Homo sapiens: one gene and its partners. Changing the gene in region 4 together with the main gene of any one other region gives a genetic interaction. Each region holds a gene or a part of one and is shown on either strand. Other genes may lie near its edges.

Evidence for each region.
Region 1: changes in GNL3L (region 4) and CDK12 together harm fitness more than expected from each alone (negative genetic interaction), as found in Homo sapiens cells (one large-scale study listed by BioGRID).
Region 2: changes in GNL3L (region 4) and NCAPD2 together harm fitness more than expected from each alone (negative genetic interaction), as found in Homo sapiens cells (one large-scale study listed by BioGRID).
Region 3: changes in GNL3L (region 4) and LARS1 together harm fitness more than expected from each alone (negative genetic interaction), as found in Homo sapiens cells (one large-scale study listed by BioGRID).
Region 5: changes in GNL3L (region 4) and CSTF3 together harm fitness more than expected from each alone (negative genetic interaction), as found in Homo sapiens cells (one large-scale study listed by BioGRID).

Annotation. Positions count from the first base shown.
Region 1 is NC_000017.11:39,530,986-39,536,792, forward strand, and holds the end of CDK12 (cyclin-dependent kinase 12), read left to right. Parts: coding exon 1-331; 3' UTR 332-3,559; downstream 3,560-5,807. UniProt on the Homo sapiens protein: Cyclin-dependent kinase that phosphorylates the C-terminal domain (CTD) of the large subunit of RNA polymerase II (POLR2A), thereby acting as a key regulator of transcription elongation.
Region 2 is NC_000012.12:6,516,715-6,522,521, forward strand, and holds part of NCAPD2 (condensin complex subunit 1), read left to right. Parts: intron 1-113; coding exon 114-311; intron 312-650; coding exon 651-785; intron 786-881; coding exon 882-969; intron 970-1,064; coding exon 1,065-1,245; intron 1,246-4,271; coding exon 4,272-4,396; intron 4,397-5,083; coding exon 5,084-5,323; intron 5,324-5,807. UniProt on the Homo sapiens protein: Regulatory subunit of the condensin complex, a complex required for conversion of interphase chromatin into mitotic-like condense chromosomes.
Region 3 is NC_000005.10:146,178,785-146,185,379, reverse strand, and holds the start of LARS1 (leucine--tRNA ligase, cytoplasmic), read left to right. Parts: upstream 1-2,729; 5' UTR 2,730-2,886; coding exon 2,887-2,892; intron 2,893-6,595. UniProt on the Homo sapiens protein: Aminoacyl-tRNA synthetase that catalyzes the specific attachment of leucine to its cognate tRNA (tRNA(Leu)).
Region 4 is NC_000023.11:54,549,871-54,555,677, reverse strand, and holds part of GNL3L (guanine nucleotide-binding protein-like 3-like protein), read right to left. Parts: intron 4,716-5,807; coding exon 4,628-4,715; intron 4,111-4,627; coding exon 3,936-4,110; intron 3,847-3,935; coding exon 3,704-3,846; intron 3,387-3,703; coding exon 3,250-3,386; intron 1,114-3,249; coding exon 986-1,113; intron 1-985.
Region 5 is NC_000011.10:33,157,680-33,164,087, reverse strand, and holds the start of CSTF3 (cleavage stimulation factor subunit 3), read left to right. Parts: upstream 1-2,607; 5' UTR 2,608-2,762; coding exon 2,763-2,789; intron 2,790-6,408. UniProt on the Homo sapiens protein: One of the multiple factors required for polyadenylation and 3'-end cleavage of mammalian pre-mRNAs.

The DNA of each region.
Region 1 (5,807 bases), on a different chromosome or scaffold from region 4:
CCACCTTGGGGAGTCCAGCAGTTACCAGGGCACAGGGTCAGTGCAGTTTCCAGGGGACCAGGACCTCCGTTTTGCCAGGGTCCCCTTAGCGTTACACCCGGTGGTCGGGCAACCATTCCTGAAGGCTGAGGGAAGCAGCAATTCTGTGGTACATGCAGAGACCAAATTGCAAAACTATGGGGAGCTGGGGCCAGGAACCACTGGGGCCAGCAGCTCAGGAGCAGGCCTTCACTGGGGGGGCCCAACTCAGTCTTCTGCTTATGGAAAACTCTATCGGGGGCCTACAAGAGTCCCACCAAGAGGGGGAAGAGGGAGAGGAGTTCCTTACTAACCCAGAGACTTCAGTGTCCTGAAAGATTCCTTTCCTATCCATCCTTCCATCCAGTTCTCTGAATCTTTAATGAAATCATTTGCCAGAGCGAGGTAATCATCTGCATTTGGCTACTGCAAAGCTGTCCGTTGTATTCCTTGCTCACTTGCTACTAGCAGGCGACTTACGAAATAATGATGTTGGCACCAGTTCCCCCTGGATGGGCTATAGCCAGAACATTTACTTCAACTCTACCTTAGTAGATACAAGTAGAGAATATGGAGAGGATCATTACATTGAAAAGTAAATGTTTTATTAGTTCATTGCCTGCACTTACTGATCGGAAGAGAGAAAGAACAGTTTCAGTATTGAGATGGCTCAGGAGAGGCTCTTTGATTTTTAAAGTTTTGGGGTGGGGGATTGTGTGTGGTTTCTTTCTTTTGAATTTTAATTTAGGTGTTTTGGGTTTTTTTCCTTTAAAGAGAATAGTGTTCACAAAATTTGAGCTGCTCTTTGGCTTTTGCTATAAGGGAAACAGAGTGGCCTGGCTGATTTGAATAAATGTTTCTTTCCTCTCCACCATCTCACATTTTGCTTTTAAGTGAACACTTTTTCCCCATTGAGCATCTTGAACATACTTTTTTTCCAAATAAATTACTCATCCTTAAAGTTTACTCCACTTTGACAAAAGATACGCCCTTCTCCCTGCACATAAAGCAGGTTGTAGAACGTGGCATTCTTGGGCAAGTAGGTAGACTTTACCCAGTCTCTTTCCTTTTTTGCTGATGTGTGCTCTCTCTCTCTCTTTCTCTCTCTCTCTCTCTCTCTCTCTCTCTCTCTCTCTCTCTGTCTCGCTTGCTCGCTCTCGCTGTTTCTCTCTCTTTGAGGCATTTGTTTGGAAAAAATCGTTGAGATGCCCAAGAACCTGGGATAATTCTTTACTTTTTTTGAAATAAAGGAAAGGAAATTCAGACTCTTACATTGTTCTCTGTAACTCTTCAATTCTAAAATGTTTTGTTTTTTAAACCATGTTCTGATGGGGAAGTTGATTTGTAAGTGTGGACAGCTTGGACATTGCTGCTGAGCTGTGGTTAGAGATGATGCCTCCATTCCTAGAGGGCTAATAACAGCATTTAGCATATTGTTTACACATATATTTTTATGTCAAAAAAAAAACAAAAACCTTTCAAACAGAGCATTGTGATATTGTCAAAGAGAAAAACAAATCCTGAAGATACATGGAAATGTAACCTAGTTTAGGGTGGGTATTTTTCTGAAGATACATCAATACCTGACCTTTTTTAAAAAAATAATTTTAAAACAGCATACTGTGAGGAAGAACAGTATTGACATACCCACATCCCAGCATGTGTACCCTGCCAGTTCTTTTAGGGATTTTTCCTCCAAAGAGATTTGGATTTGGTTTTGGTAAAAGGGGTTAAATTGTGCTTCCAGGCAAGAACTTTGCCTTATCATAAACAGGAAATGAAAAAGGGAAGGGCTGTCAGGATGGGATAATTTGGGAGGCTTCTCATTCTGGCTTCTATTTCTATGTGAGTACCAGCATATAGAGTGTTTTAAAAACAGATACATGTCATATAATTTATCTGCACAGACTTAGACCTTCAGGAAACATAGGTTAAGCCCCCTTTTACAAAGAAAAAGTAAACATACTTCAGCATCTTGGAGGGTAGTTTTCAAAACTCAAGTTTCATGTTTCAATGCCAAGTTCTTATTTTAAAAAATAAAATCTACTTATAAGAGAAAGGTGCATTACTTAAAAAAAAAAAACTTTAAAGAAATGAAAGAAGAACCCTCTTCAGATACTTACTTGAAGACTGTTTTCCCCTGTTAATGAGATATAGCTAGATATCGGTGTGTGTATTTCTTTATTATTCTCTGGTTTTTGATCTGGCCTTGCCTCCAGGGCCAAACACTGATTTAGAAAGAGAGCCTTCTAGCTATTTTGGCATTGATGGCTTTTTATACCAGTGTGTCCAGTTAGATTTACTAGGCTTACTGACATGCTATTGGTAAATCGCATTAAAGTTCATCTGAACCTTCTGTCTGTTGACTTCTTAGTCCTCAGACATGGGCCTTTGTGTTTTAGAATATTTGAATTTGAGTTATTGGGCCCCACTCCCTGTTTTTTATTAAAGAACGTGAGCCTGGGATACTTTCAGAAGTATCTGTTCAATGAAAAAAAGTTGGTTTCCCATCAAATATGAATAAAATTCTCTATATATTTCATTGTATTTTGGTTATCAGCAGTCATCAATAATGTTTTTCCCTCCCCTCTCCCACCTCTTATTTTTAATTATGCCAAATATCCTAAATAATATACTTAAGCCTCCATTCCCTCATCCCTACTAGGGAAGGGGGTGAGTGTATGTGTGAGTGTATGTGTATGTATGATCCCATCTCACCCCCACCCCCATTTTGGGAGTCTTTTAAAATGAAAACAAAGTTTGGTAGTTTTGACTATTTCTAAAAGCAGAGGAGAAAAAAAAACTTATTTAAATATCCTGGAATCTGTATGGAGGAAGAAAAGGTATTTGTTAATTTTTCAGTTACGTTATCTATAAACATGATGGAAGTAAAGGTTTGGCAGAATTTCACCTTGACTATTTGAAAATTACAGACCCAATTAATTCCATTCAAAAGTGGTTTTCGTTTTGTTTTAATTATTGTACAATGAGAGATATTGTCTATTAAATACATTATTTTGAACAGATGAGAAATCTGATTCTGTTCATGAGTGGGAGGCAAAACTGGTTTGACCGTGATCATTTTTGTGGTTTTGAAAACAAATATACTTGACCCAGTTTCCTTAGTTTTTTCTTCAACTGTCCATAGGAACGATAAGTATTTGAAAGCAACATCAAATCTATACGTTTAAAGCAGGGCAGTTAGCACAAATTTGCAAGTAGAACTTCTATTAGCTTATGCCATAGACATCACCCAACCACTTGTATGTGTGTGTGTATATATAATATGCATATATAGTTACCGTGCTAAAATGGTTACCAGCAGGTTTTGAGAGAGAATGCTGCATCAGAAAAGTGTCAGTTGCCACCTCATTCTCCCTGATTTAGGTTCCTGACACTGATTCCTTTCTCTCTCGTTTTTGACCCCCATTGGGTGTATCTTGTCTATGTACAGATATTTTGTAATATATTAAATTTTTTTCTTTCAGTTTATAAAAATGGAAAGTGGAGATTGGAAAATTAAATATTTCCTGTTACTATACCACTTTTGCTCCATTGCATTTACTTCTTAATCTGTACCCCCTGAGCATATCTAATCATGTATAAAGGACGTTTTTCCTCCACTTTATCTTAGGGGTTCTCTGTCTCAGAATCATTATAGACTCATTAACTCCCCCTCCCAGCAAAAGGTTATCAGGATTTGAAGAGGTGCTTGAAAACGCTAGACTAGGAACTAGAGAATAAATGAGTTGGGAAAAACCATGAAATGTGATTTTTTTAAAGTAGAAAAGTTATACAAATAATGGTACCAAACCATCAAAAGAGTTGAGCTTCATGTACCCTGACTCCTCCTGACAGGAGAGGTAAGTGGGTTTGAGCTCAACTGTCATCAAGGGAAGTTGGTAAGAGGCTGTTTAGACCCAAAGGATAGTCTTAAACCAGACTTCACCACCCACCCTACCTCAGTTCCCATGTTATTACATGCAGAGTCAGCATGGGGATTAGTGTACCTACCTTTGCTGAGATTTCCCGATGCGTTGCCAATCCAGAAAGTGAATCAAAAAGTTGTTTAAAAGTTAAAATCTCTATTGTTTCCAAAATCTTTCCCATCTCCACCTGAAGACAGAATTGCTTCCCCTTCTCTTTCATGGCTTAGAACACAGGATAAATTTGCCCCTGTGGTATGTGCTGCAATCCTGCTAGTTATGACAAATGGGCAGAGGGCAGATAAAGTCCACTAGGAGAAAGAAAGAAGGGCGATAGGTATCTGAAGTTGTAAATGGGGTGAGCAAGTCATACAGGAAGGTTAAGGGATACACCAGAGCAAGGGAAATTAGAAGGAAGTTGAGTTCAAAAACTGGTGATGATGAGAGTTGCTAACCTGTTTTTGAATCCTCAAAAGTTTAAGTGGTGTTCCCTTTCCTGTGGGCTAAGTCACATCTTATAAGGAGAATGGAGAGCTCAAGATTGTTCCAATTTCTGGAATTATGTGTTCCTGGTTGCAAGTTCATGATTGGGGTATAAACTTCAACCTACTAGAAAATACTGTTTTCACTTCATAGCAGTGAAAATTGAAGCAGTGTCTTTTCAATTCTGGGCCTAAAGGCTGAGGACCTTACTAACCTAGATTTTTCTGTCATACCCAAGGCCATTTCTAACCAGAAACCATGCTGTTCAGTACCTCAATTTCTTAGGCACTGTTCTTTCCTAGATAGGCATCCTTAACTGTATGGTTAATGCCTCAAAGAAGTAAACAGTTAATGCTCTTGGTGCTGATCTTGGGATTTCCATTGTTATTAAAGATTGCCTCATAGCTTGACTGTTTTTTAACTATGGAGTGACTTTTCATATCCTAATCATCCATAAGGGCTAAGTGGAATGGGAATGGGGAATTCCTCAAGGGAGGAAGCACTCAACCATTCCAAGGGAGAGGTGGAACTGCTGAGTCTTCTGGTTGTCCTGAGAGGCAAGGTGAGCATTCCTGGACACTTTGGTTAATTTTACTGTCCAGGTGTGACAGTTCTTATCTGTAGGAACACCTCCAGTGTTCCTAATTAGGAATTCTCTCAAGTAGGAGATTACTCCAAGCCAGAGTTGAAAGACTGGGGGAGTACGACACCTGAAGGAATTACTGGTGGTACTCCTTACTGTACGCAACTGTCTCTCCATCTCCTATCCACCCACTTCTTTTCCCTATTTCTCTTTCTCCCCACTCACCATTCAACTGGAATAATTTAGGCCTACCATCGGTATTGATTGCTTAACCCTACCAGGTATTTAGAGTTACTGCTATTTCATTGTTTTGAAAGGTAATGAGAGTCAATTCAGAAGACAAATGTCTATCTGGATCCTCAACCTACTGTAGTGGAAAGTGAAGGAGAAAGTAAACTAACCATACTTTCTTATTGCTAGGAGCTATGAAAGGAGCTTTTCATTTGTGTTATGTAGGGTACAAAAGATTATTTTGTACCCTGGCCAGGAAAGGCAGGGAGTCATCTTTCTGTCTTCCTGCTTCCCCTCTTTCAACCTTCACCTTTTTATCCTCTTCTTCCATATCCTGAGATTGTTGCTTTTGCTGATGACATTTCTAAGCTCAGTTGCAGATGGTGTCTGTGGGAAGTAAAGCTTGGTGAGAAGAGGGCTCTCTGGTATCTAAGAGAAAGCAGATAAGAGTTGCTTTAATGTCCTGGTGATTAATCACTGGGGTGCCAAAACACTTTGACCACTGGATTTCTCTCATATCTCTTATCTCAAAAAATTAGTACTCCAAGGCTGAGAGAAAGAGACTG
Region 2 (5,807 bases), on a different chromosome or scaffold from region 4:
TCCTGTGACCTTGGGAGTGAATACCTAGGCAGTTAATGGAAAAAGTTATGGCCAAGCACAAGCAAGCTTCGCCTTGACTAAAGGTTTGACCCCTCTATGCTTCTCTCTCTTAGAATTACATGATGCGTAATGCTGTGCTGGCAGCCATGGCGGAGATGGTGCTGCAGGTTCTCAGTGGCGATCAACTGGAAGCAGCAGCCCGAGACACCAGAGACCAGTTCTTGGATACTTTACAAGCCCATGGCCATGATGTCAACTCCTTTGTGCGGAGCCGTGTTTTGCAGCTCTTCACCCGAATTGTCCAGCAGAAGGTAACCAACTTCTATGTGGCAAAAACATATGGTACCTCTCCATATACCAGTGTAAAGAGGAATCCAGTGTTGAAGATAAATATCTGCCCCAAAGAGGTCTAGAATTCACATTTTTATTATCAGTAGTAAAAGTCTTCCTCTACCAAGGACGAGGATATCTGGCTCCCTTTAAGGACTGTAATGTGTCTTACCACTACAAGGAGTACTCCTAATCTATATTCTGTAGAAAGGGTTTTTAGAGTGAGTGGGTAGCTCAGTTTAGAGTATACTTAAAGATCATCTTGAACAAAATGGATGATGTGGGACTTGAGCAGATTCTTCTCTTCCTACCCTACACAGGCTCTCCCCCTGACACGTTTCCAGGCAGTGGTGGCTTTAGCTGTGGGACGTCTGGCAGACAAGTCAGTGCTAGTATGTAAAAATGCCATCCAGCTGCTGGCCAGTTTTCTAGCCAATAATCCTTTCTCCTGCAAGGTAAGTAGACTTGGTCCACCAAAAGAGAAGGAATTAAATGGAAACAGGGATGAAATTATGTCATTTACTGACCCTGCTATTCATTTTACCTGATAGCTTAGTGATGCTGACCTTGCCGGACCACTGCAGAAGGAGACCCAGAAATTACAAGAGATGAGGGCCCAGAGGCGAACTGCAGCAGCTTGTAAGTAGTTACTGCCTTGGAGTCCTAATGCCAGACAGGCTTCTCCTTGCAGTCAGAAACTCTAGTGAAAGAGACTAAGTGACACTCTCATTTAGCTGCAGTGCTGGACCCAGAGGAGGAGTGGGAAGCCATGCTGCCAGAGTTGAAGTCTACCCTGCAGCAGCTTCTACAGCTTCCCCAGGGAGAGGAGGAGATTCCTGAGCAAATTGCCAATACAGAGACAACTGAAGATGTGAAAGGACGCATCTATCAACTGCTTGCCAAAGCTAGTTACAAGTAGGCAAAAGAATGGGATATTCTTCGTGATCTGTTTATGTTTAGAGTTAACCTTTGAGAAACTTACATAATGTGTCTTTTAAATTAACTGCACACAGATATGCTGCCACCAGGTGATGGTAGATGTTTTCATGTAGTAATGGTCTGACCATAGGCCTAGTCCACAATTAAGCATGTGTTTCTACTTTATAAATGTTTAAAAAAACTACTGAAACAATTAAATGTTAACAGTATTATAATCAAACATGAGTCCTCCTTCAATTGAAGAAGAGCACCTATAAATAAGTTCTAGTTGTATGATCTTGAATAAGTTGCTTAACTTTCTGTGCCTCGGTTTCATTATCTATAAAATAAGAAATTGATTAGATCTTATGATCTCTAAGGACTTTCTAATTCTAAATTTCATGAACTAATAATATCAAACATGCTTAATACTACCTTAATCTTCAAACCTAGTATGAATCCTGATCTTAGAGAAAAGATTTCTCCTAGTGTTTTTGTGACTCTAGAACTTAACAACAAAAGCCCTTACAGCCGTCAACAAGTTTTTTTTTTTTTTTTTTTTTTTTTTTTTTGAGATGGAGTCTCACTCACTCTGTTGCCCAGGCTGCAGTACAGTGACACGATCTTGGCTCACTGCAACCTCTGCCTCCCAGGTTCAAGCAATTCTCGTGCCTCAGCCTCCCAAGTAGCTGGGACCACAGGCGCGCACCACCACACCGCACTAATTTTTTTATTTTTAGTAGAGACAGGGTTTCACCATATTGGCCAGGCTGGTCTTGAACTCCTGACCTCAGGTGATCCACCCATCTCAGCCTCCCAAAGTGCCATGATTACAGGCGTGAGCCACCGCACTCGGCTGCCAACAAGTATTCTTAAACCTCAGCCACAAGTTATTTGTTATTTATTTACTTCTTACCTAATTGGGCTGAATTTTTTTTTTGGAGACGGAGTCTTGCTCTGTTGCCCAGGCTGGAGTGCAGTGGTGCGATCTTGGCTCACTGCAACCTCCACCTCCTGGGTTCACGCCATTCTCCTGCCTCAGCCTCCCGAGTAGCTGGGACTACAGGCGCCCGCCACCACGCCCGGCTAATTTTTTTTTTTATATTTTTAGTAGAGACGGGGTTTCACCGTGTTAGCCAGGATGGTCTCAATCTCCTGACCTCGTGATCCGCCTGCCTCGGCCTCCCAAAGTGCTGGGATTACAGGCTTGAGCCACCGTGCCCGGCTTGGGCTGTTTTTAGAAGGCTAGAGAGTGGCTTGTTTGCCCTATGACTCCCTTATGTTACTTTAGTGTCTCTCTTTTTATTTTGCTAAAGCAAAAATAGAGACTATAGTTTTATAAGTGCATGTTCCACCAAGCATTCTAGTATTTTCTCCTGTCAATTAGAAAAGGATTGTTTGTTTTTGAGACAGAATCTCACTGTTGCCCAGGCTGGAGTACAGTAGCGCAATCACAGCTCACTGCAGCCTCTCACTGTAGCCTCAACCCTGCTGGGCTCAAGCGATCTCCCACATTAGCCTCCTGAGTAGCCTGGTTAATTTATTTATAATTTGTAGCTGGGATTACAGGTACACACCACCAGGCCTGGCCTTTGCCAGCCTGGGCAACGTGGCAAGAAGATAACATGTAGACAAGCAGTCAAACATGTATTCTTTTTTTCCCCCTTTTATATGACTGATAGAATTCTCTGCCCACTGATCTACCATCTTGTTTTTTTCACTTAACTATGTGTCTCAGTGGTTTTTAAAAATATTTATGGCTGGGTGCAATGGCTCATGCCTGTAATCCCAGCTACTTGGGAGGCTGAGGCAGGAGAATTGCTTGAACCCAGGAAGCAGAGGTTGCAGTGAGCTGAGATTGCTCCGCTACACTCTACCCTGGGTGACAGAGGAAGAGTCCATCTCAAAAAAAAAAAAAAATTTATAGATGGCCAGGTGCAGTGGCTCACACCTGTAATCCCAGCACCTTGGGAGCCCAAAGCTGGTGGATCTCTTGAGGCCAGGAGTTTGAGGCCAGCCTGGCCAACGTGGCGAAATGGCGAAACCCATCTCTGCTAAAATTACAAAAATTGGCCAGGTATGGTGGCACGTACCTGTAATCCTAGCTATTTGGGGAGCTGAGGCATGAGAATCACTCAAACCTAGGAAGCAGAGGTTATAGTGAGCCAAGATCATGCCACTACACTTCAGCCTGGGTGACAGAACAAGACTCTGTCTCTAAAAAAAAAAATATATATATATATATACACATATATATTTATACATAAATAGTTTCCCACTCTCCTCTTTTTTTGAGAGAGAGAGTGTCTCACTCTTTTGCCCATGCTGGAGTACAGTGGTATGATCACAACTCACTGCAGCTTTGATCTCCCAGGCTCAAGTGATCCTCCCACCTCAGCTCCCTCGAGTAGCTGAGACCACAGGCACACACCATTACACCCACAGGCACACACCATCACACCCACAGGCACACACCATCACACCCACAGGCATACACCATCACACCCACAGGCACACACCATCACACCCGGCTAACTTTTTTTACTTTTTGTATAGTTGGGTCTCCCTGTGTTGCCCAGACTGATCTCAAATTCCTGGGCTCACGTGTCCCCATTATTTTTTATGACTACATAGAATCTTATTGTCTGGATGTGCCTGAATTAACTAATTATTGAAAGTTTATTGTTTCTAAACTTAGGAAAGTTTTTAAACAGGTGTTTGGAGTAGGTTTATGATTTTAAAACTTTAAAAAGCCTTATTGGAGTTTTTTTGAAGACTGTAGTAATGCCTTGTAGGTTCAGAAATAGGAAAAGTGTTTGCAGATGAGCAGTCAGGGGAAAAAAATAGGCAAAGTGTTTTGAGCCCTACCCCTTAGTAGGTGCTGTAACAACTTTTTAAGCATGTTAAGTGCTCCTTTTCTCTGGGCAGTAGGTCCAGGGACTTGATAGAATCATGAGGTAAGCTCCCTTACAAACGGCTGCAGTGACATTCTTCTGGGTACTGACAGGCTGGTGTTCTTTCAGAAAGGCCATCATTCTCACTCGAGAAGCCACAGGCCACTTCCAGGAGTCCGAACCCTTCAGTCATATAGACCCAGAGGAGTCAGAGGAGACCAGGCTCTTGAATATCTTAGGACTTATCTTCAAAGGTAATCATTTTCCTTCTTCAGTCAATAAATAACACATGTCAACTGGTATTTACTGAGCATTAACTTTATGCCATCATTGGCCTGGTTAACAGAACCTGGTGCTGAAGAGCCCAGAGATGAATTGGCATTACTTTTGCTCTGGAATGGAAGCAGCCCACGGGCCTAAGATTGATAGTCACAGGGTGACTGTCCAGACCATAGCGGTCTTTAGGTATGGTTTTTGAGAAATTTAGATATTTTAGAGTAAGTTTTAATTTCATATCTTCACATTGTGAAAAGAGATATCCAGGGCCAGATGTCGTGGCTTATGCCTGTAATCCTAACACTTTGGGAGGCCAAGGCAGGAGGATTGCTTGAGCCCAGGAGTTGAAAATCAGCCTGAGCAACATGACGAAACCCCCATCTCTACAAGGGATACCAAAAAAAAATTAGCCAGGTGCGGTGGCACGCACCTGTAGTCCCAACTGCTCAGGAGCTGAAGTGAGAGAATCACCTTAGCCCGGGGAAGTTGAGGCTGCAGTGAGCGGTGATCATTGCCACTGCACAGCCTAGGCAACAGAGTGAGACCCCATCTCAAAAGAAAAGAAGAAGGAAAATAAATAAGTAAATATCCAGGAATGTTGACAGCTGTTGGATTCCCCTGTATCCCCTTGAACGAAACCATCCTGTACTTCTCTAACTCCTTAGGCCCAGCAGCTTCCACACAAGAAAAGAATCCCCGGGAGTCTACAGGAAACATGGTCACAGGACAGACTGTCTGTAAAAATAAACCCAATATGTCGGATCCTGAGGAATCCAGGGGAAATGATGAACTAGTGAAGCAGGAGATGCTGGTACAGTATCTGCAGGATGCCTACAGCTTCTCCCGGAAGATTACAGAGGCCATTGGCATCATCAGCAAGATGATGTATGAAAACACAACTACAGGTATGCCAGAGTCCCTTTCTATAAGGACAGCCTTGGGGTTCTTTTGGATTTTTTAATTTTTTAAATTTTTATTAACAATAGAGATGGGGCCTTCCTTTGTTGCTCAGGCTGGTCTCCAACTCCTGGGCTCAGGCAATTCTTCTGCGTCAGCCTCCCAAAGTGCTGGTATTACAGGTGTGAGCCACTGCACCCGGCCATGGATCTTGGAGTTCTTTTCCATATTTTATTGATATATCTATCTGCTCCTTTAAAAGGCAGGGGTTCTCGGCTGGGCGCGATGGCTCATGCCTGTAATCCCTACAAAACTGGGAGGCCAAAGCAGGAAGACAGGTTGAGGCCAGGAGTTCGAGAGCAGCCTGGGCAACATAGCAAGACCCCATCTCTACAAAGAAACAAAAACTAACTGGGCGTGATGGCACGCACCTGTAGTTCCAGCTACTCGGAAGGCTGGGCAGGAGGATTGCTTGAGCCCGGGAGTTTGAGG
Region 3 (6,595 bases), on a different chromosome or scaffold from region 4:
TGTCAGGAAGTGATGACTAAATGGTTGGTAGCTAAAGGAAGAGGGTATGGAAAGTGAGGGAGGCAGCCTAGAGGCAGGAGAGCGACTGGTAGCCTAAGGTTCCTTCTTAACTTTTTCCTTTCATCCAACAAATTTGTATTGACCCCATATCATATGCCAAGTATTGTTTTAGGACATCGTTGAATTTGTATTTCAAAACTAGTTGTTGAAAAATGTAAAAAAAAAAAAAAAGTTCTGTGTGTATGTGTTTGTGTGTGTGTGTATTCCCTTCCCTTAAACCCTTAGGTAGACACACATCTGGGCTGCGTTCCCCATCCCCTTAAAGGGTCCCCAATCCCTTAAAGTGCATTGTAGATGCTTAATGTTTACTGGGTTAATAAATTATCACGTGAGTAACTAATCTGTGGTTTTTTTTTTTTTTTTTTTGGAGCTGGAGTCTCACTCTGTCACCCAGGCTGGAGTACAGTGGTGTGATCTCGGCTCACTGAAACCTCTGCCTTCCGGGTTCAAGCAATTCTCCTGCCTCAGCCTCCTGAGTAGCTGAGACTACAGGCACATGCTGCTAAGCCCCGCTAATTTTTTTTTTTTTTTTTGTATTTCCAGTAGAGGTAGGATTTCACCGTGTTGCCCAGGCTGGTGTCGAACTCCTGAGCTCAGGCAATCCGCCCACTTAGGCCTCCCAAAGTGCTAGGATTACAGGCGTGAGCCACGGCGCCCGGCCATTTGTGTTTGTTGTTGTTGTTGTTGTTGTTTTTTGAGATGGAGTCTCACTCTGTCTCCCAGGCTGGAGTGTAATGGCATGATCTCAGCTCACTGCGACCTCTGCCTCCTGGGTTCGAGTGATTCTCCTGCCTCAGCCTCCCAAAATTCTGGGATTACAGGAATGAGCCACTGTGCCCGGCAAGAAATGAATTTTAAATTTTATTTATTTTTAATTAATTTGAATTTAAATTGCCACATGTGGCTAGTGGCTACTGTATCAGACACCATATATCTCTGTATGGTAGCATAGTCTTTTTTTTGTTTTGTTTTTGAGACGGAGTCTTGCTCTGTCGCCCAGGCTGGAGTGCAGTGCTGCCATCTTGGCTTACTGCAATTTCCACCTCCCGGGTTCAAGTGATTCTCCTGTCTCAGCTTCCCAGCAGCTGGTATTACAGGCGCGTGACACCACGCCTGGCTAATTTTTGTATTTTTAGTAGAGACGGGGTTTCACCATCTTGGCCAGCCTGGTCTCGAACCTCTGACCTCGTGATCCACCTGCCTCGGCCTCCCAAAGTGCTGGGATTACAGGTGTGAGACACCGTACCCGACCAGTCTTTTTTTTTCCCTTGAGATGAAGTCTCGCTCTGCCGCCCAAGATAGAGTGCAGTGGTGCGATCTCGACTCAGTGCACCCTCTGCCTCCTGGGTTCAAGCAATTTTCCTGCCTCAGCCTCCCGAGTAGCCGGGACTACAGGTGCACGCCACCATACCCAGCTAATTTTCGTATTTTTAGTAGAGACGGGGTTTCACCATGTTGGCCAGGCTGGTCTCAAACTCCTGACCTCAGGTCATCCGCCCACCTCGGCATCCCAAAATAATGGGATTATGGCCACCGCCCCTGGCCCTGTTTGGTAGTGGTCTAAATAGTCTGAGTCAGGCAATGGGACCAGGTAGGCTTTCAGTCTCTTGCTTAAAAATGGAGATTGTTGGCCGGGCACGGTGGCTCACGCCTGTAATCCCATCACTTTGGGAGGCTGGGGCGGGCGGATCACGAGTTCAGGAGATCGAGACCATCCTGGCCAATATGGTGAAACCCCGTTTCTACTGAAAATACAAAAATTAGCTGGGCGCGGTGGCGCGCGCCTGTAGTCCCAGCTACTAAGGAGGCTGGGGCAGAAGAATCGCTTGAACCCGGGAGGCGGAGGTTGCAGTGAGCCGAAACCGCGCCACTGCACTCCAGCCTGGAGACAGAACGAAACTCCCTCTCAAAAAAAAAAAAAAAAAAAAAAAAAAAAAAGGAGATTGTTGGCTAGGTACGGTAGCTCACGCCTGTAATCCTAGCACTTTGGGAGGCCGAGGGAGGCAGATCACGAGGTCAGGAAATCGGGATCATCCTGGCTAACAAGGTGAAACCCAGTCTCTACCAAAAATACAAAAAATTAGTCGGTGTGGTGGCGCGCGCCCATAGTCCCAGCTCCTCGGGAGCCTGAGGCAGGAGAATTGCTTGAATCCGGCAGGCCGAGGTTGCACTGAGCCAAGATCGCGCCACTGCACTCCAGCCTGGGCGACAGAGCGATACTGCGTCTCAAAAAAAAAAAAGGAGATTGTCAATACGCGGTTATACAATGTCTAAATGCTGGGCTGTTGAATGCCACTGACAGTAAAAAATATCTGTGCATAGTGGCAAGCCATAAGTAGCACCTCAGTCACCGTATAGTAATTAACTGCGTATCCTGGCATCCCGACAGGCAACCAGCTCTACCGGGTGAAAAGGTTGATGGCCAAGGGACTCCAACCTAACCAGGGCGCACTCGCGGCATTCTGCGATCCCGCACTGCATCATGGACTTTGTAGTTCAACATGCCAGTGACGTCACTGCCGGTTCCCCTCTGAGTGGGCCTATCGGGTAGACTTCCGATAACCCGTTTTTCTCTGGGAATTGTAGTCAGTTAGCGCCTGCTGGGTGTCTGCTCGGGTGGTCTGGGAACTACAATTCCCGGCGGGCTGTGAGATGCCTTGGCTGTAGTTAGTAAGGAGCCGGATGATTGCCTCAGCAGGTGTGAAGCGTGTGCTTTAGTTTCGTGGGAGGCCTGGCATCCCCGAGAGGGAGGGGAAAGGTAACCACTCCTTTGTGGAGGTCGCCAGGGTCATTGTCGTGGATTTGCACAGTCGGCTGGGCGGTGCAATGGCGGTGAGTTTGAGCGAGAAGAATCCGCAGGGGCCCTGGAGCCGGACTGGCCAGTCTCTAGGGGCTCTCCATGTGCTGTCCTGAAGGGAAAGTCCTTTTCTAAAAGAGAGCCACGCTTAAGGCGTGCCTTTCGTAGAGACTTTGCTTTTTCTTGCTAGTTTATGAACCACGAACTGATGTCTGTTAACTTTACGGAGTACTTGGATATCATATTTGTTATTTCTCTGGAGTTTCTAAAATCGAGGTGGAGAGCCGGGCACGGTGGCCCACGGCTGTAATCCCAGCACTTTGGGAGGCCGAGGCGGGTGGATCATTTGAGGTCAGGAGTTCGAGACCACCCTGGCCAACATGGTGAGACCCCGTTTCTACCAAAAATACATAAATTAGCCGGGCGTAGTGGTGCGCGCCTGTTAACCCAGCTACTCGGGAGGCTGAGGCAGGAGAATTGCTTGAACCCGGGAGAGGGAGGCTGCTGTGAGCCAGGATCGCGCCACTGCACTCCAGCCTGGGCGACAGAGTGAGACTCCGTCTTAAAAATAAAATAAATAAATAAACAAACAAATAAAGCCGAGGTGGAGAGAGGAGTATGTAAGTTGATTCCTACTTACAGCAAAAAAAAAAAAAAAAAAAAAAAAAAAAAAAGAAAAAATTGAGCGCCTCTCCGTAAAACAGACAAAAATCTCTCTTTTCATAGTGTTTATGTGTGTGGGTAAAATACATTGTAAAATATTGTGTCAGGTGCTGATAAATGCTGTGGGGAAAAAATAGAGCAGGAAGGGGTGCTAGGGAGTGTACGGTGGGGTAGTACAGTTGCAATTTTTAAAAATTTTTTTAAATTTGGGAGATGTTCTCACTCTGTGACCCAGACTGGAATGCAGTGGCGTGATCATGGCTCACTGCAGCCTGGACCTTAGGGCTCAAGCGATCCTCACACCTCAGCCTCCCCACAGCTGGTACTGCAAGCGTGCTCCATTACACCCTGCTAATTTTTTGTATTTTTAGTAGAGACAGGGTTTCGAACTCCTGGGGTCAAGCGATCCTTCTGTCTCAGCCTCCGAAAGTGCTGGGACTACAGGCATGAGCCATCCCGCCTGGTTTTATTTTTTTTTGTTTTTTGTTTGTTTGTTTGTTTTTTTCTTGAGACGGAGCCTTGCCCTGTCGCCAGGCTGGAGTGCAGCGGCGCGATCTCGGCTCACTGCAACCTCCTCCTCCCAGGTTCAAGCGGTTCCCCTGCCTCAACTTCCCGAGTAGCTGGGACTACAGGCGCGCGCCACCATGCCCAGTTAAATTTTTTGTATTTTAGTAGAGACAGGGTTTCACCACATTGGCCAGGATGGACTCAATTTCCTGACCTCGTGATCTGCCCGCCTCGGCCTCCCAAAGTGCTGGGATTACAGGCGTGAGCCATGGCGCCTGGCCTGTTGCAATTTTTAAAAGGATGATCAAGCAAGGCTTTGCCAAAAAGGTGGCAAAAACGAGGTAAGAGAGCAACCTATGCAACTATAGGAAGAAAGAGATTTCCAGGCAGGGGCAACAGTGTAAGTGAAAAGCAGGGATCCCGGGTAGAAGCCAGGGATGCTTCTAAACATCCTGCAGTGCACAGGACAACCCCTGAAAACAAAGAATTATTTGGCCCAAAGTGTAAGTAGTGCCAAAGTTTAGGAACTCTGATTTAGTTATATAGCCTTTTGTTACCAGTGAGGAGGTTGAGTCTCAGATTGATCAAATGACTTGCTCAAGGTTATACAACAAGTTGGTGTTTGGGCCAATATCAGATTTTATTATACTTGATCTTTGAGGTTTTGAGAAACAAGTTTTTCTGAGAAACAGAAAACTCAAATAAAAGCTTTCTTGCATTTGGCATACTCAGTACAATGAAAAGAAACACATAGTTCTAAGTAATTTGTAAAAGACTTGCTTTCATAGTCTTCTTTACAATGGGTGACATGATCATATTTTTTATTTTTATTTTTATTTTTTTTTTGAAATGGAGTCTCATTCTTTCCCAGGCTGGAGTGCAGTGGTGCCTCCCAAGTTCAAGTGATTCTCCCACTTCAGCTTCCTGTGTAGCTGGGACTACAGGTGTGCGCCACCATGCGCTGCTAATTTTTGTATTTTTTGGTATAGTTGTGGTTTCACCATGTTGGCCAGACTGGTCTTGAACGCCTGACCTCAAGTGATCCGCCCACCTTGGCCTCCCAGAGTGCTGGGATTACAGGTGTGAGCCAATGCACCTGGCCATATTTTTTATTTTTTGAGACAGGGACTCACTCTATCAACCAGGCTGCAGTGCAGTAGTGCAATCATAGCTCACTGCAGCCAGCCTTGATCTCCTGGGTTCAAGTGATCCTCTGGCCTCAGTGTTCCCATGTCCTGCTCATGGTAATTTTTAGGTAAAAGATATTTGTTACATAACTTCTGTGTCTGTGGCATTGTACTTTGTGCTAAGGTGACTATAAACAATTTAAAAGTTCCTGCCTGTTGAGAATTTACAGCCCAACTGCATAAATGTCTTAAGATCATTGGTTGCATTTAACAGAAGTCAACTCAAGTTGGTTAAGGAGGAATTTAGTAATAAAGTGGAAGTTGGCCAAAGGCGATGGCTCAAGCCTGTAATGTCAGCACTTTGGAAAGCCAAGGCTGGTGGATTGCTTGAGCCTAGGAGTTCAAGACCAGCCTAGGCAACATGGTGAAACCCTGTCTCTACAAAAAAATACAAAAACTATCTGGGTATGGTGGTGCATATGCCTGTAGTCCCAGCTATTCAGGAGGCTGAGATGGGAAGATTGATTGAGCCCAGTAGGTCAAGGCTGCGGTGAGCTGGTGCTTGCACCATTATGCTCCAGCCTGGGTGGCAGAGGGAGACCCTCTCTCTCTCACACAGACACACACACATAAATACAGTGAAATTTCATATTACCCATGACCGTAGGGTAGGAGATATGACTAGGCTTCATGAGGCCCTACATACTTTTGCCTTTGTGGGTGGGTCCTTTCCTCTGTAAAAATATTAGAAATTATATTTTACAGACCGGGCTGGGTGGCTCATGCCTGTAATCACAGCACTTTGGGAGGCTGAGACGGGTGGACCACCTGAGGTCAGGAGTTTGAGGCCAGCCTGGCCAACATGGTGAAACCTCGTCTCTACTAAAAATACAAAAATTAGCCAGGTATGGTGGCACGCACCTGTAATCCCAGCTGCTCGGGAGGCTGAGGCAGGAGAATTGCTTGAACCCCAGAGATGGAGGTTTCAGTGAGCTGAGATTGGTCTTGCTGTGTTGCCTAGGCTGGAGTGCAGTGGCTCCATCTTGGCTCACTGCAACCACCGCCTCTTGGGTTCAGGTAATTCTCCTGTCTTTGCCTCCCGAGTAGCTGAGATTATAGGCGCATGCCAACGCATCCGGCTAATTTTTGTATTTTTAGTAGAAATGGGGTTTCGCCATATTGGCCAGGCTGGTCTTGAACTCGTAGCCTCAGGTGATCCACCTGCCTCGGCCTCTCAAAGTGCTGGGATTACAGGCATGAGCCACCAAACCTGGCCAAAAAAATTGTTTTTCTTTTAAAGAGGAGGTCTTTCTATGTTGCCTAGGCTGGTCTCAAACTCCTGGCCTCAAATAATCCTCCCTCCTCAGCCTCCCAAAGTGTTGGGATTGTAGACATGAGGCACTACATCCAGCCAAGTTACTTATTAAGAAGAGGTTTTGAA
Region 4 (5,807 bases):
GAAACCCCATCTCTACAAAAAAAAAAAAAAAAAAAAAAAAAAAATTAGGCATGGTGGCAGGCACCTGTAGTCCCAGCTGCTCCGGAGGCTGAGGCAGGAGAATTGCTTGAACCCAGGAGGCGGAGGTTGCAGTGAGCTGAGATCACACCACTGCACTCCAGCCTGGGTGGCAGAGCGAGTTTCCATCTCAAAAAAGAAAGAAAAAGAAAGAAAGAAACCTTGGGACATATGTCCAAGTAAGTGAGGGCTGGAAGCTTAGTTTAGGGTAACAGGAATGGTAGGGATGAAAAGGATGAAAAGCTTGTCAAAAGATTTAGGAGGGAGAAGACATAGGTCTTGCTGACTGACAGAGTATAAGATCCCAGGCCAGGCATGGTGGCTCATGCCTGTAATCCTAGCACTTTGGAAGGCCGAGGCAGGCAGATCACCCGAGGTCAGGGGTTCGAGACCAGCCTGGCCAACATAGCAAAACCCTGTCTCTACTAAAAACACAAAAATTAAGCCGGGTGTCGTGGCGCATGCCTGTAATTCCAGCTAACTGGGAGGCTGAGGCAGGAGAATCATGTGAACCTGGGAGGCAAAGGCTGCAGTGAGCCAAGATCACGCCACTGCACTGCAGCCTGGGTGACAGAGTGAGACTCTATCTCAAAAAAAAATAAAAAAATAAAAAATAAAATAAAATAAAATCCTGGTACTAGTTAGGGAGAAGAAAGAGTCGTTTGCAAGTTGGACAACTGGGTGGCTAGATAGTGATACCTGTTCTATGGGCTAGAACCAGAGCTGGGAAAGCTGCCTTAGAGAGCATGCCTGTTTCCTGGACCTGTCATTGCTTGGTAAAGGATATACTAGGCCAGGCATCCAGAAGCCCATAGGGAGCGAGTGAACTACCCACATCTCACCACATGAAAGGCAGGTAAAAGGGATTGACCACTTCCCAGAGCCCTGGGGAGAGAAGAGGGTTGCCATGAACAAAGATGACAGGTACCTTATACACGGTGGTTTTATTTTCAATGGCATCTGCTATTTTCGTCATCGGAGAATGGAGCAACTTGATCTCCATTTCAAGTGGGTCCGTGTCACCCAACAGCTCATCAGATTCTCCGGTGGCCAAGCCTTTAACACAACCAACACCACTGTCAGGGCCCTGGCTCCCCTCTGTTGCCAGCCCCCTGGTCAGGCCTCAGTGAAAAGGATACATGGATGCTTCCCAGGGGAGTCAGGTGCAGGAACTTTTTCACTCCTGCTGAGAGGCCACATCACCAAGAATTAAAAGCATGGGTTTTGCAGTAGGACATTCACTTGCTGGGAGCTGGACTCAGAGCTTCAGCTTCCTCATGTGGAAAATGGGAATTCCACAAGCCCTCTTCACACTGGGCTGCTGTGAGACATGGCAGATGTCTGTAATGCTCTGGCCCAAGATGCTGCTCTGTAAATGGCAGGCACTGGGATTCCCTCCCCAGGACCAGACTTTCTCCTCCTCTCTCTGGCCCCTTGCCTGGAGCTGGCCTCTACTGCAACCCTCAGATGTGCCCACTGCCCTGTGCCCCACTACCCTCATGCCTGCTTCTATAATTTTGCCCCTATTCCCTACCCTCGGCCTTCTAATCCCTACTCACCCTTCAAGATCCAGCACTAGGGCCAAGTCCTCCAGGAAACCTTCACCACTAAACCTGTTCCTCACTGTCTTCTCAATTTCTCAGACCTCAGTCTTTGGCCAAAATGTATTCTCAGTGATGGAGCACCTCTTGCCCTCACATCCAGCCAGGGTCAAGCATCATCATAAGAACATAAACTCAAACCCCTCTCAACTGCCCTATTTAACAGAAGAGGAAACTAAGGCCAGATACAGTGGCTCATGTCTGTAATCCCAGCACTTTGGGAGGCCAAGGCAGGCAGATTGCTTGAAGCCAGGAGTTCAAGACCAGCCTGGCCAACATGGCAAAACCCCATCTCTACTAAAAATAAAAAAAATTAGCCAGGCGTGGTGGTGCACACCTATAGTCCCAGCTACTCAGGCAGCTGAGGCACAAGAATCACTCGACCCCAGGAGGCAGAGATTGCAGTAAGCCCAGATCATACCACTGTACTCCAGCCTGGGCAACAAAGCAAGATTCTGCCTCAAAAAAAAACAAAAAGAGGAAACAAATTCAGAAAGGGGGCTGACTTGCTCAAAGCCACATGAAATACAAACTAGAAAGCAGGCAAGTCCTCTTAACCTCGTGTGTAACACAAGGACACTAAAAGACCCAGAGAAGGAAAACTACTGGACCTCAAGAGAAAAAACAGAGAATCTAGAAGCCAGGCTAGCCAACGCTTCCTCAACTACCCCATAATGTCTACAGACAAGCCCAGAAGGCACTGGATACCTTCCTTAGGCAGTGTAGAGAATGAAGCAGGGAGCCACAAGCCAGGGCTGCAGAGAGTAATATCTGAGGAGGGCAAACATTCTCAGGAGTTTCTGAGAGTCACATCTCTGTTCCCCAGCAAATAATCATCTTAATAAAAACTAACATTTACTGAGCATCTATTTACTATATGCCAGGCACTGTTGTTCTAAATGTCTTTTACATTATTAAAAAAATCCTCATAACTACCTTATCGGGTGGACTTACTGTCCCCATTTTACAGATGACATCATTGAGACAAAGAAGTGAAGTAATTTGTTTAGCATCACACAGTAAAAAGGAAACAAAGCTCGGATTTGAATCCAGGCAGTCTATACTTTTGGACACCCAGCTCCTGTGAGCTGGAAGAGTCTTCAACAGGGCAGGAGAACTGGGTCAAAGGCCACCTCTGCTGACATCCTTTTGGCAAATATCAGCTTTCTGTGACTTGGGTACCTTACTCACCGATAGGGGTAAGAAGGAAAATCGAGAAGTGGACCTGAAGTGGTTGTGAAAAAGCCTAAGGCAACATTAGAGAGTTTTTGAGAGAATGTCTCAGTCCATTCCAGGTCCCAAGAGACAGGAATGGAGCTTCACATTTCCAGAGCACCTCAATGGGTACCAGGCACTTTTTCTTTCGTTATTTACCAAAAGCTCACAACCACCCTCCCCCAACCCGCCCTGCCAGGGCCAGATTAGAATTCCCCACCTTGCAAGAAAAGAAATTAGGCCTGAAGCTGCTTAAGCAACTTGCCCAAAGCCCAAGTAGGGCCAAGGAAGCGGGAGGTCAAAAGTGGGATTTGCTGTCAGGTCTGTGTGGCCCCACTAGTGCAAGACCAAGTGCACCCACCCTGCCCACACTTACATTCCATGGTGTCTTCATTGGCCTGCTCAGTATCCTCGATGTCAAAGACCTCGGTCATTTCCTTAACGATCTCAGCACTGAGATGGGTGGGCAGAGTGTGAGTGGCTGGTGGTGGTATATAGAAGCTGATCTTCCCGCTGCATTGGGAGATAGGGGAGATGAGTGGTGCTGTCACTGAGAGAACCAATGACAATCCAAGAGACGATGAGTTTGCAGGCCAGAAACAGCAACGGAACAAGAAAACCCAGACAGTGGCTTCTGAACAAGAAGGAGTTGAGTTGCTGGATAATCACTGGGCATAAAGTCTCGAGCAGGACATGACCTGGCACCTTGGCCATCCTCTGCCCCAAGACCCAGGAAGTCAAGCTGCCCCAGCGGCAATGAGCACAGATGAGCCCCTTTGGGGAGCCAGGCTGCCAGCGGGCCTCACCCTTACCCCTAACCCCCTCCTCACCTCACCCAGTCAGCTAGGACAGCTTTGGCCGCCTGTTCCTGACTATATAAGCCTCCCTTCTTCTTCTTCCCCAAACGGTGGGCCACTGCCGTCAGAAAGTGCTCAGTGGTCTGGAACCCAGAGACGCCATAATAGTTGGAAATCTGGTGAAGGGAGGAAGGAGAGAAGTCATGAGGAGGAATGAAGGGCCCTTAGAGTAGGGCAGGGCATCAGCCAGGGCTCTGCTGCGGACCTCCTCCAGGTTGCAGCGCTGCAGGATGGTCTCCACTGGGGTCACAGGGTCTGCCAGCTTCTGCACGTGGACGCAGTTACGCAGGATGGTGCCCACCTCTGAGTTGGGCCCTGGGACAATGCCTGGAGCATCCAAGAGCCGGATGAACTTGTCCAGGTAGACCTCCTGCATGAATCTGGGGCGGGGAAGAAGAAAGCCCAGATGTACCTGGCATCGTAGAGGCCCCAATCACGAAGGTGGGCCTGGGATGTGGGAGTGTAAAGGAGTGAGGGGAGGGTGCATTAGAGACGAAGGTGGAGAGATGTAGAGTTGGAGGAGGGGTGACTGGGGCTCTACAGACTTGAGGCTGATTCTAATCTATCCTCTGCCACTGGGGACTGAGCTGCAGGATCTTGGGCAAGCTTGACTCTCCAAGCCTCAGCTGCTTCATCCAGTCAACAGAGCTCCCATTTGTAGCCCAATCTTGCATCGTTATTCAGAAGCTTCAAGGCGCTAATGGGAACCACCCATGTGGGGACCTGGCCCACACCTAGGGTGTATCAGGAAAATGAGGGCTATGAGACTCCCATGCCTGGGGAAAGCATCAGGGGATGGTCCATGATAAGGAAAGGGACAGGGGCTGAAGGCATGGGAGTTGGGGGGAAATGGTAGGGTCAAGGAATTGTGGAGTGGAGGAGCAGGCAGGTGCTTACTTGGTAATTCCAGGAACAGCTCCCACGCTGCATGCGCGGCTGCGCTTCAGGCTATTGATCAGGCTGCTCTTCCCAACATTGGGAAGACCTACAAAATAGCAGCAGATGGCTCAGGGCAGAAGAGGCCCTCAGGAACACTCAGGCCAGCCTGTGTGAGGGAGGCCTAGCCAGGGGTAGTAACCAGGCCATGGGGAAGCCAAAAAATTGAGCCTGACCTCCTCCCTTCCCACCCCAGGCCCTGACAAAGCCCCTACAGGGCCTTTCTACCTCTCCCCTCCATTTGTGAGCATGCTAGATAGGTATGTCCCTCTTTCTAGACGTGACACCAACCTCCCACTCACAATCAGCCAGGCAGAGGTCCTCAATGCAAGGCCTCAGTGGCACAATCCAACAGAAGGTGGACATCGAGAAATGTCTAAGAAACAGAGAACAACCTGTCTGGGTGTATCATTCCATGGATGGGGATGGAGGTCATCTCCAGATGCCAGTCTCTCTGTGCAGCTGTCTACCTGAGGTGTGTATTTTGCTGTTTGTGCATCTGTCAGCCATTCTCAGCCTGTGGATGTCTTTGTGTTTCCCCTCACTGGGCCTCATTCTCACCGTTCTCTTTCTGTATGTGCTCAATTTACATGTGTGTACTATTGTCTCAAGCATATGCTTGTTTCAACCCGAGAAAGCTGATTGCCTAAAGAAAAAAAAGGTATATGTCTAAGTATACCTCTCGTGCATGAAGCCTCTGCACACCTCTCTCCCCCCTCCCTCTCTCTAGGTCATTCTCATTCTAAATTATCACCATGCATGGAAGTCTCTACACATCTCTCTCTCTCTCTCTCTCTCTCTCTCTCGGTCATTCCCATTCTCAGTATCACCACTTTTTCCTTTTCTTGTATCTCTCCCACTCAGTCTCTTTCTCTATCTTATCTTTGTTTCTCTCTGTGTCTCTGTATCTAAGCACCTCTTTCTCTGCCAATTTGTCTGTCTCTCATTCTGGCCATTGTTCTTTTCTCTCTGATTCTCTCCACCCCACCAATCCTGCCTCTATTTGTAATTCCCTCCATGCCAACTCCTGTCAGCCTCTGTCCATGCTCCTCATCTCTGTGGGCTGGTCACTTCATGGATGCCTCTCTGTATGTGTCTCACGGTGTCTCTTCTACTCTCTCCCTGTCTGCGCCTCCTTAAC
Region 5 (6,408 bases), on a different chromosome or scaffold from region 4:
GGAGCCTGTAATCCCAGCTACTAAGGAGGCTGAGGCACGAGAATCACTTGAACCCAGGAGGCAGAGCTTGCAGTGAGCCGAGATCGCACCACTGCACTCCAGCCTGGGTGAAAGGGCGAGACTCAGTGTCAAAAAAAAAAAAAAAAAAAAAAAAAAAAAAAATATATATATATATATATATATATATATATATATATATATATATATATATTTATAACAGGTTGAGTATCCCTAATTCAAAAATCTGGGCCAGGCGCGTTAGCTCACGCCTGTCATCCCAATCCTTGGGGAGGCCGAGTTGGGTGGATCACTTGAGGCCAGGAGTTCAGACCAGCTTGGCCAACATGGTGAAACCCCTTCTTTACTAAAAATACAAAAAAATTAGCCAGGGCGGTGGCAGGCGCCTGTAGTCCCAGGTACTTGGGAGGCTGAGGCAGGAGAGTGGAGTGAACCCAGGAGGCGGAGCTTGGGAGCTTGCAGTGAGCCGAGATTGTGCCACTGCACTCCAGCCTGGGCGACAGAGCGAGACTCCGTCTCAAAAAAAAAAAAAGAAAAAGAAAAAATACAAAAATTAGCCGGGCGTGGTGGCGCACGCCTGTAATCCCAGCTACTCAGGAGGCTGAGGCAGGAGAATCGCTTGAACCTGGGAGGTGTAGGGTGCAGTGAGCCGAGATCGCACCACTGCACTCCGGCCTGGGCGACAGAGCAAGACTCTGCCTCAAGAGAAAAAAAAAAAAAAACCTAAATGTTCCAAAACTCAAAACGCTCCAAAATCTAACTTTTTAAGCACTGACATGACTCTCAAAGGAAATGCTCATTGGAGTATTTCAGATTTTGGATTTTCAGATTAGGATGCTAAAGTGGTAAGTATATATACGTAAAACACTTTCATATTCTGCTTTTCTTCATTTAATACGGTGGTTGCCTTTCTGTCAGTCATCGTACATTAGCATCAGTTTGCTGTGTGATATTCCATTGCAGAGATAAATCTTGTGATATTTTTAACCAGTCCTCCATTGCTGGATGGTGCAATGAACATCTGTTAATACATATCTTTTGCTCATGTGTCTGATTATTTTAAGGGTAAGATTTCAGCCTGTGGAAAGGGAGTAAGTGTAAGTTTGAGCAGAGGAAAGGAGACCTAAAAGAATAAGGCGAGTCTGGGAACAGTTCACTAGGTTATTTTAGGGCATTGGACCCCCGTAGGCGAGAAATGCTTGCAGACATCTAACGATGACGCTTAAATGGAAGAGCAGTTTGAGAAGATTTAGTATCATTTAATTTTTTATTTTTTATTTTTTTTGAGACGGAGTCTCGCTCTGTAGTCCAGGCTGGAATCTCGGCTCACTGCAACCTCCGCCTCGCGGGTTCAAGCGATTCTCCTGCTTAAGCTTCCCGAGTAACTGGGACTACAGGCGCAAACCACCACGCCCGGCTACTTTTTTTGTATTTTTGGTAGAGACGAGATTTCACCAAGTTGGCCAGGTTGGTCCTGAATTCCTGACTTTATTTATTTATTTTCTGAGACGGAGTCTCGCTCTGCCGCCCAGGCTGGAGTGCAGTGGCGCGATCTCGGCTCACTGCAAGCTCCGCCTCCCAGGTTCACGCCAGTCTCCTGCCTCAGCATCCGGAGTAGCTGGGACTACAGGCGCCCGCCACCACGCCCGGCTAATTTTTTTTTGTGTGTGTGTGTATTTTTAGTAGAGACGGGGTTTTACCGTATTAGCCAGGATGGTCTCATCTCCTGACCTTGTGATCCGCCCGCCTCAGCCTCCCAAAGTGCTGCGATTACAGGCGTGAGCCACCGCACCTGGCCTAGAACTCCTGACTTTAAATGATCCATCCGTTTTGGCCTCCCAAACTGCTGGGATTACAGGCGTGGGCCACCGCGCCCAGTCAATCTCATTTAATCTTAATGCCAGGTACTGTTCTAACACTTTTCTATGTATAATTTATTTCACTTGCAGGTACTATTATTATTCCCATCTATAGGCCAGAAAGCTGAGGTACGAAGTTTAATTACCAGAGTTACTTATCTTCGTTAAAATCCAAGCAGTCTGGGCTACAAACAATTATACCTACTTTGCAGTCAAGGAACCAAGCTGAGATGTTGAGCTGAAAACCCAGGTCTCAGACTTCAAAGCTTTCTACACAAGAGTCGACGGTGGCAGTAAAAATTAATGGGGGCTTGATCTATCCCTCCCACCCCCAAGAAAAGTAAAAAGCAGGAGCTGGGACCAGAGAAAACCTCCACGGAGTCCTTATCCCCTAAATATAAGAGGCATTTAACGTTTAGCATTGCTGACCTGCAATCAGGCTTCAACTGTGAGTAGCCAGGCTCTAAAGCTTGATAACTGAATTCCAAAAAGCGCGCGAGCCTCCAGGCGAAACAGCTTCCCGCCTTCCAGCCGGTTGGAGCCGGCTCAGCAACAGCCTCTCCAAGCCAGGGTAGTGACGTCAGCCCAGGAATTGGGCCCGCCCCGGGATCTCGCTGCTTTCTGCACGCTCGGAATAACCAGAGTCGCGAAATTAGCCCCGCCCACTGCCCCGGAAGTTAATGCGGAAGCCACACACCTCCTCCTCGGCCGGCAGGGGCGCAGCCATTTTAATTCATATTTGAGTGGGCGGTGGCGATTGGTGTTGGCGGTCTGGCTCAGCTGGGCAGGGGGTAACTTTACTGATTTGGGGGTGGTTTTTAGTTTAATTTTTCTTTTCTAGCTTCCCATCGACGGTCAGTGCGCACGTTGTAATCAGCTGAGGCCATGTCAGGAGACGGAGCCACGGAGCAGGTGAGGAAGGAGAGTGGTGGGGCCTCGTGGCGACCTCTTCTCCACGTCTGTTCCTCCGACTGCTCCAGACATGTTCGGCTGAGGAAGGAATTGGGTCTAGTGAACCCGGGGGACAGGGTATATAGAAGAGTGGTGGGAATGGGGAGCAAGATCTAAGATTTAATTTTTTTTTTTTTACTTCTCTCTCTTAGGCATGAATACGAGTAAATACTTGATTTAGACAATAGCGGTAGGCTGCTTCGTCCTATTTAGATTCATGGGACTACTCCAGATGGGATGCTTTCCTTTGATATCGTTTTGGTATTAGAGTGGATAGGAATTATTTTAACGTGCACCCGACGTTTTAGAAAAACTTGACAGTGTTTCTTTTACCCCGCCAAATATACTGTACCCAGAAATAGGTTACTAGTTTGAGAAATATTTGAGACAAAGCTAATCTGGAGAATTAAGACTTAATGAGAGCGAGTGAAGAAAGAAGCAAGTTATGCTGAGGTTTTGGGAATTTTGTGGCTTTCTTTCGTTTTCTTTTCTTTTAGCCACATTTCGTTTTCATTTTTCCAGCTACATAAACATTGCAGGTATAAGTTGAAAATGAGAAGTCTGTTTTGGCCACTGTAAATAAAAGCATCTGTTTTAATAGTAAATATGAGTGACAACTAAATATTTTAAAATTCACACTTTTAGGTTAGATCAGTGTGATTTGTTTCTTTTGCTCTTTGTATTCAGAATTTTGTAGGATAGTATTTACCTTTTAGTGTGAAAGAGGAAGCTAAATAGTTATGAAAAATGCCATTAAATGTGTTTTTCGATCTAAGTCCTGGTGTGTTTAGATAAATACAGTTTCTAAAATGGAGGCTAGGTAGCCTGCAGTCTCAATTTCCTGAAATTTCCCATTGCCATAGCAACGACATGCACTTAGGTTTTCGTTTTTCAGGTTCCCTAGCTTATAACGTGGAAGATGTTATTGGAGGTTGGCAGAGATGAGGCAAAATAGGAGCGTTCTATTGCATAGTCTGTAAGACTGTAGATTTCATTATGTCGGCAGTTTGATTAAATTGTTTTGTGTTTGCCCGAGGACTGGTTTCAGTCCAGAAATCTTCGCACTATTTACATTTTACATAGTGTTAGCATGCCCAAGCATGCAAAGTCTTAAAATTACTGTATCAAAACTGTTTACCCCTTTTCTGATCTAGTATTTGTTATCTGAAAGTGAAGGACTAATGAACTGAGGTTTCATTGAAAGTTTTCGAAATTCATTGTTAATTCTTAGAATTTATCTAAAATTACAAAGACACGGAAATGTTACCATGACCTCTTGAATGTTTTAGAACTGTGGTGTTTCAGTGGGACAGATGGTGGTGAAAATTTATAGAAAAATAATTTCTCCCAAAGGTTTTATTGTGCAAAGTTTAGAACATAGAGAAAAGTTGAAAGAAAAGTGCAGTGAACACCTGTAGGACAACTCTTCGCCTGGAATCAACAGCTGAAAGCCTTGCCATATTTGCTTTATCTCCCCATGCTGATAGATTGAGAACAGAGTCTTTGTCACTCACACTAGAGTGCTGTGACGCCATCACAGCTCACCATAGCTTCGACCTCCCTGCGCTCTGTGATCCTGCCACCTCAGCCTCCTCCGTAGCTGGGAGTACAGGCGCGCGCCACCATGCCCAGCTAATTTTTTTTTTTTTTTTTTTTTTTTTTTTGAGATGGAGCCTTGCTCTGTCGCCCAGACTGGAGTGCAGTGGCGCGATTTCGCCTTACTGCAGCCTCCGCCTCCCGGTTCAAGCGATTCTCCTGCCTCAGCCACCCCAGTAGCTGGGATTACAGGCGCCCACCACCATGCCCCGCTAATTTTTGTATTTTAAGTAGAGACGGGGATTTTGCCACGTTGCCCAGGCTGGTCTCGAACTCCTGACCTCAAGTGATCCGCCTACCTCTGCCTTCCAAAGTGCTGGATTTACAGGCGTGAGCCACCGTACCTGGCCTAATTTTTGTATTTTTTTTGTAGAGACAGGAATTCACCATGTTGCCCAGCCTGGTCTGGAACTCCTGGGCTCAAGCGATTCACCCACCTCAGTGTCCCCAAGTGTTGGGATTACAGACAGGCACGAGCCACCACGCCTGGTCCACGCATGTTTATTTGAAAGTATTTTGACACATTGCAGCCCCAAGTATTTCAGCATTCTCTTATAAATAAGAGCAAAATGTTGTTACATAACCACCATACCATTTCCCCACCCAAGAAAATAGTATTTCTAAAATCTAGTTCTTTAAATTTCCCCATTTGTCCCAAGAATGTGATTTTTTTTTTAACCAGAATCAATCTAGATTTACATATTGAATCATTTACTTCTGTCTCTTAAGTAGTCTCACCATTCTTCTCCCCTGGGGCTGTTGTCTATTCGAAGTGTCAAGGACACTTAACACTGCTTTTCTGGGTGTATTTGTTTTTTGTTGTTTGTTTGCTTGCTTGCTTTTGGTTTGGGGGTTGATGATGTCATTTAACTTGTCCCTTCATCTGTATTTCCTGAAAACTTTACAGTTAGGTCTATACTCAGCCTTGATATTTGGGTTAAGTATTTTTGGATAGAATACTTAACATTATATCATTACATTAGCAGGTACTTCTGCTGGGTTCTGTTAGGATGGTTAAGTTTGATCACTTGGTTTAGGGTGATCTCATTGTTAAGGGTCATGTTCCCCTTTGCAGTTAATAATCTGTGAGTTGATAACCGTTTTCTTTAAAATCACCTTATACCTAGTTATCAATTGATAAATCTTGACTAAATCAGCTCTTACATTGGAAGTAGCAAATGGTGGTTTTGTTTTGTTTTTAAAACCCACAATTCTGTTGGTCTGTGTCTGTTTACTGGCTCATACTTTCTGCAAAAAAGACTTTTTTTCTTCCTAAAGATTAAGTATCGCTATGGATTCATGGATTTCTCTTAGTGTGTTAGTATCAGTGATAGCCATTTTTCTTTTGCACACTCAACTTGTCCAAACCTTTTTGGTGGTTCTTATATCTTTTCCTTAAGTCTGAAAGGCAATTTAGACATCTGATTATCAACAAGGAAGTCATCTTCATATAGCCTTTTCTTTAACTTTTTAATAATACATTTCAAACATGTAAGAAAAACAGTATAATATATGAAGTACCTGTCATAGAGCTTCAATTTATGGCTAATCTTGTTTCCTCCATGACTTCATTTGCTTCTCTCACCCCCATTACTTCGAAGCAAATCCTAGATACTGTATTCAGCTTCAACTAAAATAACCATTAAATAACACCTTAAGGATGGAAAATATGAATGAGCTGTACCTTGCTTGATATTTAAGACAATATTGAAAATCTGGAGGAAAAGAGAGTATCCAAAATAACCTGAAATCATGGATGAGAAAAATAAACTCAATGAGACTAAAGAATAATAAGAAAAAAATTAAAACCATTGAATCATGGATTTGCTTTGGAAAAATGCCAAGGGATGGGGTGGACAAAGAGTCCTACAAGATGCAGGTGTAGATTTAGCCTTTTAGTAGCATTGAAGTTCAAGTTTGTAGAATAAACCTGATACTATCTTAAATTTATTACTAAAATATATGGATAGTCATTTTTCTCTTG